Linked DNA regions of Homo sapiens: region 1 is linked to region 2. The links come from fine-mapping of genetic effects on gene expression. Tissue or cell type: whole blood. Region 2 holds a variant in brackets; the other region holds the start of a gene. All regions are shown on one strand. Distances are from middle to middle.

What was found.
Region 1: it holds the start of MYO7A, and the variant in region 2 is fine-mapped to the expression of MYO7A in whole blood (TOPMed, PIP above 0.99). The same link has a PIP of 0.9 or more in blood mononuclear cells, monocytes and monocytes after interferon gamma.

The regions. Positions count from the first base shown.
Region 1 is chr11:77,124,759-77,133,901 of GRCh38, reverse strand. It overlaps MYO7A (myosin VIIA), which reads right to left and starts at 5,656. Exons shown (of 49, transcript NM_000260.4): 1 at 5,413-5,656; 2 at 3,250-3,313. The coding sequence starts at 3,267. It overlaps CAPN5 (calpain 5), which reads right to left. Exons shown (of 13, transcript NM_004055.5): 13 at 7,747-9,143. RefSeq lists enhancers at 1,911-2,632, 4,078-4,801, 5,524-6,247, 6,248-6,970.
Region 2 is chr11:77,170,811-77,179,918 of GRCh38, reverse strand. MYO7A (myosin VIIA) reads right to left here. Exons shown (of 49, transcript NM_000260.4): 16 at 7,034-7,171; 17 at 5,005-5,163; 18 at 4,455-4,547; 19 at 2,276-2,370; 20 at 790-874; 21 at 1-184. Among named protein-coding and RNA genes, the nearest start is that of MYO7A, 47 kb to the right of the region's middle. The variant C/G (reference allele first, on the strand shown) is at 4,659.

The sequences.
Region 1 (9,143 bases), 46 kb after region 2:
AAAACTTTTAAAATACACAGAAGAGTAAATGAGAATCAAAACAGTACTTTAGAAAAAAATGTCAATTAAACACAAAAGAGCAGTAATGAGGAATTGAGGAGGAAAAGATATAAGACATACAGAAAACATAGCAAAATGGCAGAGGTCCTTCCTTAACAGTAATTACTTCATGTGTAAATAGATTAAACTCTCCAACCAAAAGGTAAAGACTGGCAGAATGGATAAAAACAAAACAAAACAAAAACCAACCACATGATCTAACTATATGCTGCTTACAAGAGATCCACTTTAGATCCAAAGACACAAATAGGTTAAAAGTAGAAGGATTTCATGCAAATAGTATTCCATGCAAATAGTAACCAAAAGACAGTTGAGATGACTACACTATCAGACATAGATGTTAAGTCAAAATCATTACAAGAAACAAAGAAGGACATTATATTTTACTAAAAGCATCAATCCAACTGTTATCAACAGCCCACAAATTTATCTTCAAACCTCCCTCTGCCCACAAATCTGGGCCAAGTACACAGAGTCCCTACCCTGGCACCACCATGAAGCTGGGAATCATGACATACTGAAGCACAAAAGCCCTCCTTGTGGTCCTTAAAGATGTGAGTCAGGTGTGCCACACAGGTGCGCCACTAGTCAGCTGGGCTAGTCCTTCTTCCAGAGACCTCAGTCCCTGTATGTTCATGAGAGGCTGCTGCAGCTGTCTCATGGCCTTCCCTGTCCACCCTCTCCCAGGGAGGGCAGAAGGCTCTCCCATTCCCAGGTGCCCTCTCATCCCCGTGCCCCCTGGAGACTCACTGTCACAGTGCCTTTCCTAGGTTTCTAAGCTGTCTCCCCACATAGGTCTGGGAACTCCTCCAGGGCAGGGAATAGTAGGTGAATGCCTGCTCCTCCTGCCTTCAAGCAGGAAGTATGCTTCAGCTGCTTCCTTGGTCCTAAAAAGAACCCGAGCCCCGGGAGCCGACCCGCTCTGCAGTTCCACAGGCCGGGCCCAGTGGGCTCCATCTTGTGCTTTGCTGTTGAGTAAGAGGGCCTTGGGCACATTACTCAGCCTTCCTGAGCCTGTTTCATCATATGCAAAATGCAGATTAAAAACCTCTATCCACCTGGTGCGGTGGCTCACGCCTGTAATCCCAGTACTTTGGGAGGCCGAGGTGGGCGGATCACGAGGTCAGGAGATCAAGACCATCCTGGCCAACATGGTGAAACCCCGTCTTTATTAAAAATACAAAAATTAGTTGGACGTGGTGACGGGTGCCTGTAATCCCAGCTACTCAGGAGGCTGAGGCAGGAGAATTGCTTGAACCAGGGAGTCGAAGGTTGCAGTGAGCCAAAATCATGCCATAGCACTTCAGCCTGGTGACAAAGCAAGACTCTGTCTCAAAACAAACACACACACAAACAAACAAACAAACAAACAAAACCCCTGTTTTCCCACAGCTGCCATTGTGAAGCTAAAATGCCATTTGGGACTCCATGAAAATGCTTCTTCCTTCATCTGCTTCCCTGGACTGCCTCTCTCCTCCTCTCTTCCTGCCAGTTCCTTCCCTATCCTGAAAGATCCACGGGAAATGGGATGAAGGCTGTCCCTCATGTCCAGGGCTCATCAGGAAGCCCCAGGTAGGCAGAGAAAGGAGGAGGACTGTGGACCAGGCCCTGGGGTTTGCAGAGCAGGGAAGCCTCCCGAAGGAAGTAGAGGCTACACTGAAGCCTGAGCAGAAGTCAGCCAGGCAAGAGGGGAAGCCAAGCACTCCGTGGACCTTTCAGGACCGGGAAGGATGTGGCAGGAAGAGAGGAGGAGAGGGCAGACCAGGGAAGCAGAGGAAGGAAGAAGCATTTTCATGGAGCTCCACATGGCATTTTAGCCTCTCATCGGCAGCTGTGGGAAAAGAGGCTTTTAATCTTCATTTTACATATGAGGAAACTGAGGCTCAGGAAGGCTGAGTAACGTGCCCAAGGCCCTCCCACTCATCAATAGCAAAGCCTGGGCTGGAGCCCATTAGGCCCGGCCTGTGCAACTGCAGAGCTGGCCGGTTCCCCAGGGCTGGGGCTTTCTTCAGGACCAAGGAAGGAGCTGAGTGTACTTCCTGCTTGAGGGCAGGCAGAACAGGCATTCACCTACAAGACACTTGCTCCCAACAGAGGCCACCCACAGCTGGAGGTGGGTCAGCGTTCAGAGGGGCAGGAGAGGAGGGGGTGGTGAGGAGGTCCCATCAGCCAGAGGCCTGCCTCAGAGGCCCCCTGAGGGAGGACGCCCCTGGAGGGCTATGGGGGCCCAGGCCCTGGCACACAGCAAACACTCAGCGAATGGACTTTTCCTCTCCTAGATCCTGCCCATCTCTAATGGGCGTTTGAACAGGCTCTCAGGCCAAGGGGCTCTAAAGGGGGTCTCCTCCAGCCCCTGGGATAGAAGAATGTCTGTCCTGATGCTGCCCTGAAGCCTGCCTCTCACTCACACACACAGACACACACACGCGCACGCACTCATATGCAAACATGCTGGTCCGTGCAGCCTCAGGGTGGCCAGGCAAGGCTGAGCCATTGGCCTCTGGTGACCCTGGAGACCGAGAAGCTGCTGGCCAAGCCCCCATAATGCACAGCCCCACAAGCCCTACGGCCTGCTGCCAGGCCCACCTGGCTCAGGGCCCACATTCCTGGCTCCTGCTCTGGAGGCCAGGAGCTCATTAGAGCCTCAGACTGATCACGGGGAAGGGCTGAGGGTCAGAGGCCACTGTGGCCCTCAGTAGGAAGGGGGGCTGGAGGACTCAGCTCGGGCCAGCACCTCTGCTTCTTCCCATAAAATCCCAGGGGGCTCCAGCTCAAGCCTTGTCACCCCCCGCCCTCCAGTCACTGCTCCCCAAGGCCCTAAGAATAAGTTGGGCTCAGGGCCCTTCCTGGCCTGGCTTTGGGAGCCTTGCCAACCTCCTCTCCTCTTCCCCAGGGACCTTCCCACACCTGGGCCTTTGCACATGCTGTTCCACTGCCTGGGATCCAGAGATGTGTGTAAATAAACTCATTTCTGCCCAGTGGGGTGAGCCAGTGAGAGAAGGAAACCCCAGCTGGCACAGCAGAGGGAACAGGTTTCAGACTAGGCCTCAGCCTGGAGGGCTGGGTTTGGAAGCCTAGGCAGGAATTTTCCAAGAGAACACCCTGGGGAGGGTGTCCCACGGGTAAGCATATGGATGAGGGGATATGGCCTGGGGAGGACAGGCCACCCAAAGAGGTGGGAACACTGACCTGCTGAAGAATCACCATGGTCCCAAGTCAGGAGCTCCTGCTGCCCACTGGGCCAGGCACAGTTCTGCAGGGAGAGAGACCATGTCATGCTTCTGGGCAGGCCAGCCCTGGAAGCCTTGAGCCTGGCTGGGGTCACCTGGGCTCCTCCCAAAGCCCCAGCTCCTCCTCCCTCAAGGGAACCCTCCTTGGCTTCTCTCCCTCTGACCACTGCCCAGCCTGTGTGACCTGAGCCTCAGCCACTGTCACCAGCACCACTGCCCAGAGCAGCTGAATTCTTCTCTCAGCCACTGTCATTCAGAGATTCCCAAAGGGCTCCTAGAAAGTAGCAAGTCTGGCCCCACCAGGGACCTACGGCAAAGGGGCCCAGAGAGGGACCAAGACTTGCCCAGGGTCACACAGCTAGCCAGAGCAAATTTAGGACTAGGACTTAATCTCCGGCACTCAGCTTAGGGACTGCCCCAGGAATGTGGGTGACAAGGACAAGCCTGACTGAGCAGAAGGTCAAGGGCTGGGCATGACCTGCTCACAGCACACCCTGCCTGAAACCTCTCAAGAGCACCCACTGCCCTCAGGATGGCTCTGTGCAGAGCACTGGCTGCTGACGGGGAGGCAGGGTCATTGGGGTCTGTCTCTGGCTGTGCTGCTGAATGCACCGCACCTGGGCCTGGGCCCGGGCCCGGGCCCGCCCCGCTAGGCCCAGCACAATCTGGCCCCTGCTGATGCCTCGGTCTTTTCTCTCACTGCTCACTCCCTTTCCTACCCTTATACTTGGACATCCTCAGTGACTCACTGTTCCTGAAATACGCCAGCTCTTGCCATCTCCTGGCCTTCACACACTGGCCCTTCTACCTGAAATTTTGACTAGTGAATTTCCACTTATGGTTCATGGCTCAGTTCAGATGATACCTCCTCCAGGAAGCCTTCCCTGACCACTCCCAAGCTGCCAAGAGCCTCTATATTCCCCTTTATCCCATTTTGACTATATGCATTATGTTGTCAGGGTAAGGGTCAGTCCCACCTCTGCCCCCAAAGTTGGCGAGTTGATCCAGGGCAGGATGTGGCCAATGGGAGAGGGTCTGAGACATTGCCTTGTCTCCAGCCTTGTCCAGCACAGGGCCAGACCCAGAGACGGCCTCAGGAAGGAGCTTAAAAGGCAGCCCCAGCCTACAGACCCTGGTATGAGGCCCCTCTGGCTCCCAACCTGTCTCCTAGAATGCGCATCAATTTTTCACAAGGGCCCATTCAGAGCCGCCGGGGCATTCGATCCTCTGCCCATGACACTGCCCGACATCCGAGCCCTGACCCCTGCCCTGGAGCTCTGGGACACAGCAAACCCACAGTCCTTCCAGAGACCTGAACTAGTCTGGATGCCTGGTGGAGATGTGGATTCAACAGGGCCAGCAGGCAGTTGCCACCGGGCACTTGTCTGAAGATGGTGCCCAGGCTGTGGAGCAGGCGCCCTATGCCAGCATGAGCCATGAGGGCTGGGGGCAGAGCCAGTGCTTTCACTAGAGACATGGGGCTCCAAGGGATGGGGGAGAGTGGTGAGGGCGTGAAATTTAAGGGCCACATTTTAAAATGACCAGACAGACATTTCATTTCTAAAAATGAGAACTAGACCACCTTCAAGTTAATTTCTTTTCCAACTGACAACAGGGGGCATAGACTGTATTTGTATTTCTATGTCTATACCTGATTTTACCTCTTCCCCACTACAACCCTGGCTGTTGGGGCTTCATACTCCCATTTCACAGATGGGATATTTGGGGCATAGAGGAAGGAAGTGACTTATCCAAAAACGGAGATAAAGAGTGTCAGAGAGAAAGCAAAGGAGACAGAGAGAACGGACTCTTCTCTCTGCCACCACAGCATGTCTATTCCCCTGGCCCCAGGATGCCACTAACCCCAGCCCCAGCTCAGAGAAGATTCGATGGACAACATGCTCCTTGGCTCTTCCCTCCTCCAGGGGACACACATCCATCTTCCCAGGCTCGGGACAGTTTCATTCAGTGGCTGTGGTGGCTGAGCCCTCAAGGGTGGCAGGAAGCCCAGTCCCAGGAGCAAGTGGCTGTGGGGCAGAGGCTCTAGAGGTAGCTCAAGTCCATGACTCCTCCACATCCAAACCCCTCCCAATGCCCAGGACAGTGGGCAGCCCATCCTTACCTGGGGCCCAGCTGCCCACTCTCAGTGACCTGCCAGCCTGGTACAGCTGCCACCTGCACGGAGGACTCAGGAAGCTGGGTCACGGGCCCAGCCAGTCTGCAAACACACGTCCCCTCTTCCTCTGTCTGGCTCCAAGTCTCGTTCTAGGCGTCCCTCTGGGTCTTTCCCTTCCTCGCCGTCTCTCTGTGTGTGTCTCTTGTCTCTCCCTCTCTCTCCTGCCCAGAGCAGCTGTCCAGCCAGCACTGCTGCCCTCCCCTCCTCACTCCAGAGCCTTCTCCCAGGAGGCGGAGCCGGAGGGGGCCTCCAAGGTCTGGGTGCGGTGACATCAGCGTGGGGGACGGGCCGTGCTGGGGCTGGGACTAATGTCCAGAGGCTGCTCAGGGCTCTGTGCAGAGCACTGGCTGCCGACAGGGAGGCGGGGTCATTGGGGTCTGTCTCTGGCTGTGCTGCTGAATGCACCGCACCTGGGCGTGGGCCCCCCAGGCTAGCTTCAGGTGCCTCCTGTTGTTTGCAGGACACCGCCTGCTGTCTCAGCACCTGAGCAGGAAACCGCACCTGATCCTGACTTAATCACTGATGTGCTGGGGTCTCAGCCCCATTTCTTCCTCCTCTACCTGGCTGTTTGGGACTCAGAGAGGGAACGGTCAGGCAGAGCATGGCAGGAGGGAGAGTGCTGAGCTAAAGCCCTGCCTTCTGCGCCTTCTCCCTCCTGCACACCCACCCTTGCCTCTGATGTGTGTTCTCTGACGCTGGTCAATGCAACATTGCCCCCACAACCTGCTCTGCGGGTTGGGGACACATGTTATTCCGTAATCATCCAGAAACTTTGCCAAACCAGCTGACTGGGAGCCACCCCACGTGTGACAGCGACACAGATAAACTGAAGTGAAATCTGTGATTTAAAGGAGTGGGGGGAACCAAGCAAAGAGGAGCACACGTCTTTGTTATTAGCGTTGTCGAGGATGGAGACCTCGCGCGGCCCTATCGGGACATGACAGTTTCTCCTTTCCGCCCTCGGCAGCCACGCAGCTGTCGGCGGCCCCATAGTGCACCTCGCCAGGGCAGCTCTGGGTGGCAGAAGGATGTCTCTTTTGGGTCCCTAGCCCCCATAACTGGGGTGTCTGCAGGGAAGCTGCCCAGAAGGTGGGGTGGGGGCCCAAAGGGGCGCTATAGCTCGCCAGCGCCGCCTGCTGGTCACAGGCCCCACTGCCCAGCTGCTTCCGTCAGGCGGGCTGAGCACCGCTGGGAAGTGACCGTGACAGGAGTCAGCTTCTGCTAGGGCCTGGGTCCCCTCAGACCCGACGACCCTGTCCCAGGAAGACCCCAGGATGCCGTCTGCCCCTTAGCCTGCTGGCCTAACAGGAGTCCAGGAGTCCCTGGAACACAGTCCCCACCTGGGATTTGCACCTGCTGCCGAAACCCAGTACTGGCCACTCCTCAAGTCCCCCCTCTCCATCCTCCCAGGCTGGGCGGGGCCAGTGGCGTCAGCCCTACACGGATGGGGAAATGAGACCCCGGGGGAGCACAGGAGAGCCCATGGCACACGACTGGCAGCAGGGACAAAATGCAGTGAGCTGTGGGAATGGGGCAGAGAGGTGGGCAGGTTATGGGGGACAGGGCGGCCTCCAAACACCAGGATGACAGCTACATTGTGTTCAGCCATGCTATGAACCAGGCACTATGCTAAGCAGATCACACGATTTGCAATACCCATTTCTCAGTCCCATGAAGAAAGCGAGGCATCTCGGTTCACTTTGCCCTCACACTGCACTCACCCCGTCTCCCAAGTCGTTTTTCATTGAGTCGTCCACTCTGCTTTCAGTCATCCCAACCCTGCTTCTCCCCACCACCACACCAGCTTCCTGGCCCTAGATGCCTGCATCTGCCCTCAGCAGCCTCCGCTCTGGTCCCCCCACACCTTCCTGTGCCCCGAAGGCCCATCTCCTCTTCCCAGCCCTTCATGCACAGATCAGGGAGTAGGCCGTCTCTAACCCAGCAGGCCCACACTGCCCCATCAGTAATGTGCGGGGTAGTGTCTGTCATGACCAGAGTATGTCTTTGTTCTCGCTGCTCGTTTGTAGACTGTCCCAGAGCAGGGATTGCTATGCCTGGTTCCCCACATCCCAGGTGCCCGGGGCAGGCCTTGGCACAAAGCCAGCCCCGTACAGATCTACTGAATAAAGGAATGACTGAATGATCCCCACAATCTCAGCTCACAGGTGCACCGGGCAGGCAGCGGGGCCTTCCCTCTGACCAGCGGACAGTCGCCCAGGCCTGGGGAATATTCCTCCATTGTCCCTTCCCCCCAGGGGGACAGAGGGACACAGGAAAGTCTTTTTGGAATTTTGTAAGATTTATTGAGAATAGAACAGGCTTCCTGTCCCCTAACCCTGTGGTGGATCCTGAGAAGAGGGAAGCCTAGGTCTGGGTGGTGTGGGCTGGAGGCCCTACCCACCTGCAAATGGGGACTCCCAGGCCCCCGCGGGTGCATACAGTGAACAAAGTAATTGCTCTCCCCTATCACCCCTGATCCTTACCTGCCTGGCCCCCAAGGTCTCCTGGGGACCAGAGATCCCTGCATAGCCAGGAGCCAGCCTGGCCCACCTCAAGGGGCAGGAAGCAAGGGTAGCACTGTGGAACCTGTTTTTGTCAGGGGGTGGCAGGCATGCCCCGGCCCCGAGGCTGAAGCCCACAGGTCTGCCACTTGGTCCTGGTGTGCCCCTGTATCCCAGGGGACATGGCTGAGCAAAGTCCTATGTGTTAGCCTGAGGTGCAAGCTGGCTCACTTCACCCCCTACTCAGGAGCCTTGATTTGAAATAGACATCGAGAAGTGGTGATTACATGAATGTATATATATATATATATATATATATAGTGCGTGTGCATACAGAGATACATAGAGAAAGGGGTATTATTTTGCCCTTACTCAGCACTCGGTAGTAACAGTGCTGACACACAAGAATCATTGGCCCCACTTTGTAGAAGGGGGAAATCGAGGCACAGGAGGTTTAAGTGACTTGCTCCCAGTCATGCAGAGTCCCGGCCCCAGGCCCAGGTTCTTGAGGGGAAGTCCCGGCTTTCAAGAAAGAACACTCTTATCCTCCTTGTCGTTCATTTCCTGGCCCCTCATATGGCCCAGGGCCAAGACCCAGGAGCAAAGCCAGACACAGAGTGAGGAGGCAAAATCAGAGAATCCAGCACCTCCAGCCAGAACACTGATCCAGACAGCAGGATCTGGAGTCGGAAAGTCAGGTTCCCAAAAGGAAATCCCAGCAAGGACACAGGGATTCCTGTTCTTGAATTAACTGCACTTTTTCATTTGCTACACCTGGTCTGGAAGCCCGAGAAGGGCACAGCAGAGATCCCAAGTGGGTCACGGCACCAGTGCTCACGAAGAGTTCTCCAGAGGACCAGCAAAACTGGAGCCAAGAAGAAAAATGGAGGTTCAGGCTTTCAATTTTCTTTTAAAACCCCTGATTAAAATTGAGATTTTCAAAACAAAAAGAATATAAAACATTGAGGACTAAAAGGAACATTTTGGTCTGGGCAGGAAGAAGAGCACTGCGGCCTCCTAGGCTGCATTTTGGGGGAATGTTGGTGGGGGGCTGTGGTCAGGTGATGGGGCTCCCTATCTCCTGCCGAGCCCAGTGGGTGGCCTGACTCTGGTGAGCACCACACACCCCAGAGTCCCATCTTCCAGGAAAAGCTGGGGTCTTACAGCAGAGAGGCT
Region 2 (9,108 bases):
TCATGCCCCGGGCATAGGCCTGCACGGTGAGCACAGCCCAGAGGCGGTGGCGGAAGGCCTTGCGCACCAGATAGGCGCGGCAGCGGGCCTGGAACTGGATGATGCGCTGGCGGGCCAGGCGGTACTGCTGGTGCAGCTTCCGGGAGCGGTGCAGGGCCTGCAGCCGCAGGAAGCCCAGACGCATCTGCAAGGACAGCCACCCCATGCTCAGAGCCTGCTGTCCCATTCCAGACTGACCCTGCCTGCAGGAGCTTCCATGGCACCGGCCTCCACTCTCAGACAGGCACCCCCAGAAGGCGTGGCCCAGTCTCCTCTCAGATTAGTGCCCCCCCATCGTTAGAAAGTTCTGTTTCCTCTCAGGCAACATATTTTTAGGTGACCTTGACTCTCCCTGAGTTGGGGCCCCCAAGAGAATCCTAGATCAGGAGCTGCAACCAACCAGTCTGCTTCCCATCCAGCCCCAACAAGTCCTAAGCCCAGCTGCTGCACAGAGGTCCATGTGACCCAGCCACTCTCACCCTGTCTGAGATCTCTAATAATCCCAGAGTGCTCCCAACCCCCAAAAACACTCCAGAAGGAGAGCAACAAACATTGCTGGCCAGTTGGAAGAAGCCACAAGAGCCAGATCCAGACTTCGGTCTGGAGGAATGGTAGTGGCTGGCCAGGGCAGTGGCAGGAGGCCAACGAGGCCAGGCTGTGCTGCCTGGGTGCAGGCCAGTCCCACTGCCATGGCAGCAAGGCTGGGTTCAAAGGCCTGTTTGGGCAAGAGCAGCCCATGGGGAGGCTCACCAGCCCGTAGTTCTTCCTACAGTTGTGACCCCGCCAGTGCCTCTGGATCAGTGTGGCAGCGTTCTTCAGCTTCAGAAAGTTAGACCTGAAACAGCAGTAGTGGCGCGGGTGAGCAGTGTCCAGAGGCAGCCAGGGTACAGGTGGGTTTGGGATCAGGAGGGCACGCTGAGTCCCAGCTCTGTGACTTCCTAGCTATATGACCTTGGGCAAGGCACATAACTTCTGTGCCTCAGCTTCCTCATCCGTACAATGTGTAGAATAATGCCTGCCCTGCCTGCCCCACAGGCCTGTCACATAAGCCCATGAAGGTAGACATTCAAAAGGTATTTGTTGAATGAATAAATGTATGAAAAAATAAGTAATTAAAATAATATAAAGATCAAAAGCTTTGAACAGTCTAACTTCCTCAGTTTATACATGAGGCAACTGAGACTTGATAGGTTGGGACTAGAGCCCATGTCTTCTGACTGACCCTAAGTGAGCCCAGTGCTGTTCCCCCTGCACACAGCAGGCTGCTTCTATAGGAGAACAGTCATCTTCAGCCTGATAGAGGACAGAGACCATGCACAGACAGCAGGGGTCTGCTGAATGTAGAAATAAATAAAGGAAGAGCGAAGGATGGGTGTGCAAGTATGCAAGTGAGCCAATAAGTCAATGCTTGGAGACACACATAAGCAAATGAGCAACTGTGGGAGTGGGTGGGTGAATGGATGAATGGAGGAATGAATGGGTAGGTGGATGGGTGGGTGGACTGATGAGTGAATGGATGGGTGGGTGGGTGGATGGATGGATGGTGGATGGGTTGGTGGGTGAATTGATGGATGAATGTGTGGGTGGATAGGTGGATGGATGAGTGACTAGGTGGGTGTGTGGGCGGGTGGATGGATGGATGGATGGATGGGTGAATAGGTGGGCAGATGGATGGATGGATGGATGGGTAGGTGGGTGGGTGAACGGACGGATGGATAGGTAGGTGGGTGGACGAGTGGAAGAAGGGAGAGAGTGACCATATGAACTGCAAAGGGGTGCATTGTGGAATTTTTGCAGAGCTTTAATCACACTTTGGAGTCAGTCCTGCACATTTGTGAATTGTCACGTGTACACATATCCCTTAGATAGAATATGAGACACATTTTGTATTAATAATTTATAAAATCTCAAATTTCCTCTTTGCAAAATTTCATCAGCATCTGACATGAACAGTGGGTCCACATGTGAGTCTCATGTATCTACGTGTGCATGTGCATATGTAGGTGAATGTATTGCATTATTTGGCTTACGTGGCACAATGGGTCCATGTAAATCATGTATCTATGTTCCTCTGTGTTTACATGATCATGTGTGCATGCCATGCATGTGTGCACTTGTTTCATAGGTGAACACGTTTTTTTCCTAGTGTTCATGCGGGCAGAGCAGAGGAGAGCCAAACACCACACGTACACCTGTATGTGGGCTGAGGAGGGGAGGAGCTGGTGGGAACACGCACCTGTCTTTGAATCCCCGGATGACTTTCTGAAGGAGGATGACTCTGTCGGTGATGGCTTTGTCCCGCTCCACTTCCAGCAGCATGTCATGGTGGTCCTAGGAGGCAGAGCTCCTGAGCAGCGCCCCACAAGGTCTCCTCTAGGACCACCTGCTCAGTCCCAGTGGGGGCTGCTCTTCCTTCACTGGGAGCACAGGTCAAGAACTCAGTTGGGCCCCATGAGCTCCCAGCTGGCTCTGGCCCCTGGGGCAGCCTCCCACAGCCACCAGGACAGACAGGGGTTGTGGCTGTTTCCCAGAGGTCCAGGCAGGACAAATGGAGCAGAAGGTGCCTAATCTCTCTGGATGGGGTCGGAAGGCCCAGTATGCACACACACCAGCTTCTTCCCTATCGTCAATCTGCCCAAGCCCCCTGCTTCTAGACGTCCCTGTCACATCAGTCCCTCACCTGGGCTGGGCTGTTGCCATTCTTCTCCCGAACCTTGGCAGCAGCCTCCTAACTAAAGGTCTCGCGGCCTCCTGGCTCCCTCTCTGGCGCTCCTTCACAAGCAGCCAGAGGGACCCTCCTCAACACAACCTGGATGGTGACCCTACAGTGACACCTCATGGTTCCCCACGTCGAGCCTGGGTTCCTCACCCTGGCATTCAAGGCCACCCATGATCCAGGGTGTCTGCCAACTTTTTCAGCCCTCTCTCCTCCTCATCCAAGACCCCAACCCTCACTGTAGTTGGACAAAACTTCATTGGTTCACTTAATATATATGAATTGAACACCTCCATGTGCTGGCACTGTGCTAGATGCTGGGGAGGGGAGGGGCTGCCACAATGAACCAGGGAGACATGGCCCCTGCCCTTGGGGAGGGTAGAGTCTCATGAGGGAGCCAAATCCATCAGATAATCACAGACACACAGGGCCCTGACAGAGGAGATGCTCAGCCGAGGCATTCTGAATGAATGAATGGATGAATGAGCATGTTTGGCCTCTCAAAACCAAGGCCATATCGGAAGAGCCTAGCAGTGTAAGTCAGGGGCTGATGGAGCTCCTCCGAGTTCCCTGGTACTAGATGCCATCATGATTCCTGCCTTCCCCACTTTGCCCACACAGGGGCTGGGCATCAGACCTTCCCAGACTAGAAGTCCTGCTCCCTGCTTCCTAGCTGCCTGGTTTCAGGCAACTCACTTCTCTCTGAGCCTGTGAAATGGGTATAATATTTCCTTCTCCACAGGACTGTTTCAAGGATTAAATGAGCTCATGGATGAAAAGCACCCACCCAGGGCCTGGCACATGGAATGTGCTTTCTGGCTGACAGCTGTGGGAGGCACAGGCAGGGAACATTCATCACATCTTGCTGATGAGGAAATGCAGGTGCAAGGAGAGAAAGGGCCTAGCCTGAAGCCCCTTGGCTGGAGAGGAATTAGAAGAGGCCGCAGGCTCCCTCCAGTTCGGAGCTGGTTCTTGTCCCTCCTGCAGCTGTCCTTGGAGTGCCCAGGCCCCACCCCCCACACCAGAGGAAGGAGCCCTGTCATCCGGGACAGCCAGAAATCTAGCACAGCGGAAATGCAAATGGGGAAGCCCAGCACTGGGAGCTCGCACTGTCCCTGCTGCGGCTGCCCTGCCACTGCCAGCTCCCAGCCATGTCTCCAAGGCTGTGACTCCGCGACTCCCGCAGGCCTTGCTTCCTGCTTCCTTCCCCAGCTGCCCAGGCAGCAATGGGAGCTGAGCTCCCTACAGAGTGACGGACAGGTGGCATGCTGCGGACCCCAGCACGGGATGGGCCCTGCCAGGCAGGAAACCACAGGAAGGAACCTAAAGATACACTCAAGAGACCCCACACAGGCACACCCCAATTTACAGATGGGAAAATGAGGCTCAGAAAGGGCCCCAAGGCAAGCAGCACCCCTGCCTCCCTGCTGTGGGCCTAACAGCCAGCCCGCCCCTGGCATGTGCTTTGTAACCTGTGGTCAGTGCTCTGACCCCACTCCCAGGTTGTAGATGATCTCAAACACCAAATTACCCTTCCCCACCAGAGAGGCCAGATCCCACCTGCTCCTCCAGCCACACCACAGCCCGGCAGAAAGGATCTCAAAGCCCCAGCACTGCCTCCCTCTCCCGAGCACCCCAGCCCACATCATGGGAATTTACAGCCCCCCCAGGGCAGCCCAGGGAAGGCATCTGTGCTCACCTTCAGAAAGATCTTGGTTTTGCCTATCTGCCAGTCATCGTGGGTGCCCAGCACAGCCTCAGCCATGCGCTGGCAAGTCCCGCGGAGGTCGCCCTGGAGTGAGGATGGGGAACACAAGGGAATGGACAGCCTCTCCAGTGGGAAGGCCTCCGGAGTGTCCCCGAGGCTGAGAGGCAGGGCTCTTCCCGAGCTCTGCCCCTGACT[C/G]GAAGTGTGACCTCAGCTGGGTCCTGCCTTCTCTGAGCCCCAGTTTTCTCCTTAGCTCAGCTGGATGGTATGATTGCAAAACCCTTTCTCACAACTGACATCCAGGGCCCGCGTGGCAGCCCTGGTCTTGTTCCTTACACCACCATGTGTGAAGTCCTCACCAGCTGAACATGGCAACTGAAGCCCACTGATGCATTCCAATACCTGAACCCCAATTTTCCGTGCTGCACCTGAGAGGTCAAGCAGATGTCAAGCCCCGCCCATGGTCCTGATAAGAAAATTGGGACCCTTGCCCAGCCAAAGCTGGGACCCTCCCCTCCTGCCCTCTGTGCACTCAGCCCTGTACCTGCTTGTAGGCCGGCTTCACACCTGGCAGCAGCACACGGTACCGCTCCACAAACTCTACGAAGCTGTAGCGGATGGGGTAGCCAGCTCGGCGGATTCGGATGGTCTCCATCATTCCTGAGTACCGCAGCTGGCGCACGCACAGGTGCCGGTCGAACAGCTGCCAGGCACACAGCCAAGGGCATCAGGGCCAAGGCTCCTGCTGGGAGGCAGCCCTGCTGTGCACTTGACCAACCCAGACAAAGGCTCAGAAAGGCCAAGTCCACACGGCATGGGAGGAGCAAAGCTGGGACAGGCACCGGGATCTGCAGCTCAAATCCACAAAAGAGCATAAAGTGAGGCCTGTCGTGGTGGAGCTGTGTGCTTTGGGAGCACAGAGAAGACAGATTAATTCCCCTTGGGACACCCAAGTGGGGAGCTTCATGGAGGAGGCGTCTTTATCACCCTAACCCTGACAGGAGGGGGAGTATTCCAAGGCTGGAGGGGGTGAGCCTGTGCAAAGGTTTGGAAGCCTGAAAGCGCAGGACTTTGCTGGGAATCTTGAGGGAGCTAGAGAGGCTCGTCCAGGCCAAGTTATGGCTGTGCAGGTGAGGGGTGCTCTGCACAGCCCCAGGGAGGACCTTTCACGTTGCAGGTATTGTAGATCTGCGGTTATTCAGACAACTTTCTAGCTGCCTTAAGGAAGAGGCACATTTTTCAAAGGGCCCTGGGGTTTGGTTGGTGGAGGGGCTGGGGAGAAAGAGTAGAAGGCAGGTGCTGGGCTGTGAGGCTGTGGGGCTCTGTGAGGGCCTCATCCATGGATGCTGGAAGCCAGGGAAGTTTTAGAGCAGGGAGAGACTGGGCCAGGTCTGCATTTGAGAACAATGTCACTGGGGGCCAGGGGAGGCAGGACAGGAGGCAAGGGAGGCAGGAGACCCTTGAGGAGGCTATTGCCAAGGCCCAGTCCACAGATGCTGAGGACTGGGCCGAGGGAAGGGTCCCACTTCAGAGCCAGGGAAGACTGTGCCCGACTGCCCTGGTGTCAGTCCCCTGCACCCCCTGCATTAGAGGGAGAGCTCACTGGAGCCCTCTGCGACCCTCAGGCCCCTGCAGACCTGAGTCCTAAAGGGGACAGGCCTCATCCACTCTGGGACATGTTTTCCAGGCAGGAGGCAGCAGGAGGGGACGGTCTTGCAGCCTGTCAGCTTCCGGAGACTGTTTCCTCTCTCTCCGGGCCACTTTCCCCGGCCTTCCTTCCCTCCCCAGATCCCGAGGCCCCAGCTTCCCCCTGTGCCTCCCTGCAGGCCTCTGGGTAAACAACCCTCCCAGAGCCTGTGCTGCGAAAGGAGAGGGCTCGCAGCGAGGTGGCCCCAGCCTGAGCCCCTTAACCTCCCTGAGCCCCCAGTCCCGCATCTCTAACCTGGGACCAGCACAGTCCCTTTCTCACGGGCTGTTTGAGAAGGTTGAAGGAGGCTGTGGACTGACCATCCAGCCTATGCTGGGCACACAGAAAGGGCCCAACAAATGTTATTCAGAAAAGTCAAGAATGAGGATATCCCAACCAGCTGAAGAGATGGGGGAGGCTTCCAGGAGGAGGTGGTGGTTGAGCTGGGCCAAAGGAGAAGGGGACTTTCAAAGAAGCAGCCCCAGCAAGAACCACAGCTGCCAATCACTGGGCACTTGCTGGGTGTGGGCATCTGCAAGCATTACTGCATGGAATAGCCTTAGGAGGTAGATACGGTCAGTCCCGTTTCCATCTATGAGGAAACTGAGGCATAAGAGAAGAAACTGCTTTGTCTGCAGTCGCCCACTTGTACATGGTAGAGGCAGGATCTGAACCTGCTGCAACCCCCCGCAGAGTCTAGGCTCTTTCCAAGGCACCTGCTGCCTCCAATAAATAGGGGGCCTTGTTTTGTAAGCTCCCGGGGTGCCCCCCATTCCCCAAAGGGACAAAGTCTCACATCCTTCACTCCCACCCTACCTTATTCTTGACCTAGCTCCTCCACGTCACCCTAGCCGCCACCCGCCAACCCCAGGCCAGGGCCACTCACCATGGGCTTCTTGAACTCATTGGGCTTGATGCATCGCACAAAGAAGGGCTGGCAGGCACCCAGCGTGCGCATCAGCAGCTCCAGTGACCGCTTGAACTGGCTGCTAAGTGTGGGCGAGCGCTTCCTGGTCTCGGCGCCCTGGGGGGACGGACGGCAGCGATGGGAGGGGCTGTGCCTGCCCCATCCAGTGTCCCAGGAGCCGCCCAGTAGGAAGCGGGAGGGGAGGTCAGCGGGGTCAGGGTTTGAGGGACAGGGCGGTATTTGAAGTTTTCCTGCAAACTGCCTCTCCCCACCTTCTGAGCTGGAGCCTGGACTCCAGATACCTCCTCCAGGAAGCCTCCCAGGACTTCCAAAGTTACCACCTCTGGGCGAGGGGGAAGTGAACCCTACAGGAAGATCTCCGCACTGGGAGTCTCAAGCCTGCCCCTGCACCTGGTGCGCTGGATAACTCTGAGCAAGGGGCAGCCCCTGAGTCTCATCCCTCCCTTCCCTGTATAAAGGAGTAATCGGACTTGGTCACCTCAGGACACTGAGGTCATCTCTAGAGACAGGGGTTAGACGAACCTAGATTCAAGCCCTGGCCCACCACTTCCTAGCTGTGTGCCCTTGGGCAGGTCACTAAATGTTGCAGAGCCTCAGTTTCCTAAGTGGAGGTGATGCCATCTATCCATCTGACCAGGCTGTGACAAGGGTCAGAGGTCAGGGCATATTTCAGTAAACAGCAACCTAGAAAGGTGGTGCCGCCTTCTGGAAACCTGTGGGCAAGCGCGAGGAGGAGGGGCGGGAGCTGCCGGTGACCTCTCCCCTCCCAGGCTTAGCCGGCAGCAGCAGGCTGGGGGCGGGGCAGGCCTGGCTAATCCTCCTAAGAAGGCACACAAGCAGCCTCCTCCTAACCCCCCGCACTGTGGCTCCGACGCAGCCAGGGGTTCTGTGCTCCACCAGCCACACCTGGGCGATCCTGGCAGCCAGCGAGCCCCCTGCGCCTCCCTGCCCTACTGGGGTCCCCTCTGAGAATACTGTGAAATGAGGTGGGGGAAGCCCTGAGCCGCAAACAAACAGGAAGCCAAATGGCAGGACTGATGGGAACTGGACACAGAGCTTAGGTTTTGTTCCAAAGCATCTTGATTAGTGTTTTCCTGGCAATTTTCATTTGGTTGAGAATTTCTTATTTTACTTGACTTCATTTGATTAATATTGCAAGATTTTTATATTTTTAGAGTCATCATTTCATCTGATATCCTGTAGCATCAAAAACCAGGGGTGTAGATGTAGATATGTGAGGTATTTGGGGGGACAAAGGTGTTGTGCTCATACTCAATTTAGGTACTATGCCACCAGACTGTGATGAGGCCTTCCGAGAAAGAGCCAGTGCCTGCGATTCTGAAATCTGCAATGCTTTCCAACTGCATTGTATTTGGAATATATTCTAGGACTTTGCCCAGAGAAGCTGGGGAGTATTTGCAATGCGGTAGGGTGGTGGTCAGATCTGTGGCCCCTGGCGTTGTCCTCAATTTGATCCAGCAGCAGCACCGGGTGACCCCGGTCACTGGAGGGGAGCTGTCCAAGTTGGGCTGTACCCAGCCTGCATTAGGGCCCCTGACATGAGTACACGCATACGCATGCACACACACACACACACAACACACACACAACCTCAGCATGCACATACACACGCCACTAGGAGCACACGCATACCACCGCGTGTACACACACGCGCACGCACACCCTTCTTTGGTCTTGGTCATCACAATAAAACGACTGCTTTCTGCCCGTCCTCCCTGCTGGGCTGGGAGCCCCATGAGGACAGGATGCGTCTGCCTCTTTATTGCTGCATGGCCAGGGCCTACATGACACAAGTAACAGTCAACACTTTGATCTACTGAAGTGCTGTTGAACTGGTTCCTAGTGACATCCATGGGTTCACAGAAATTGCCCACCTTCCCGTTGCTCCAGCCAAACATCTAGCAACTGTCCTCAGTGCCTCTTCTGTCACATCTAATATATCCGCAAATCCTACAGGCTCTACTTTCAAAATATCTCCAGAACCTGACCCCTCACCACTTCCTCCACCGTCA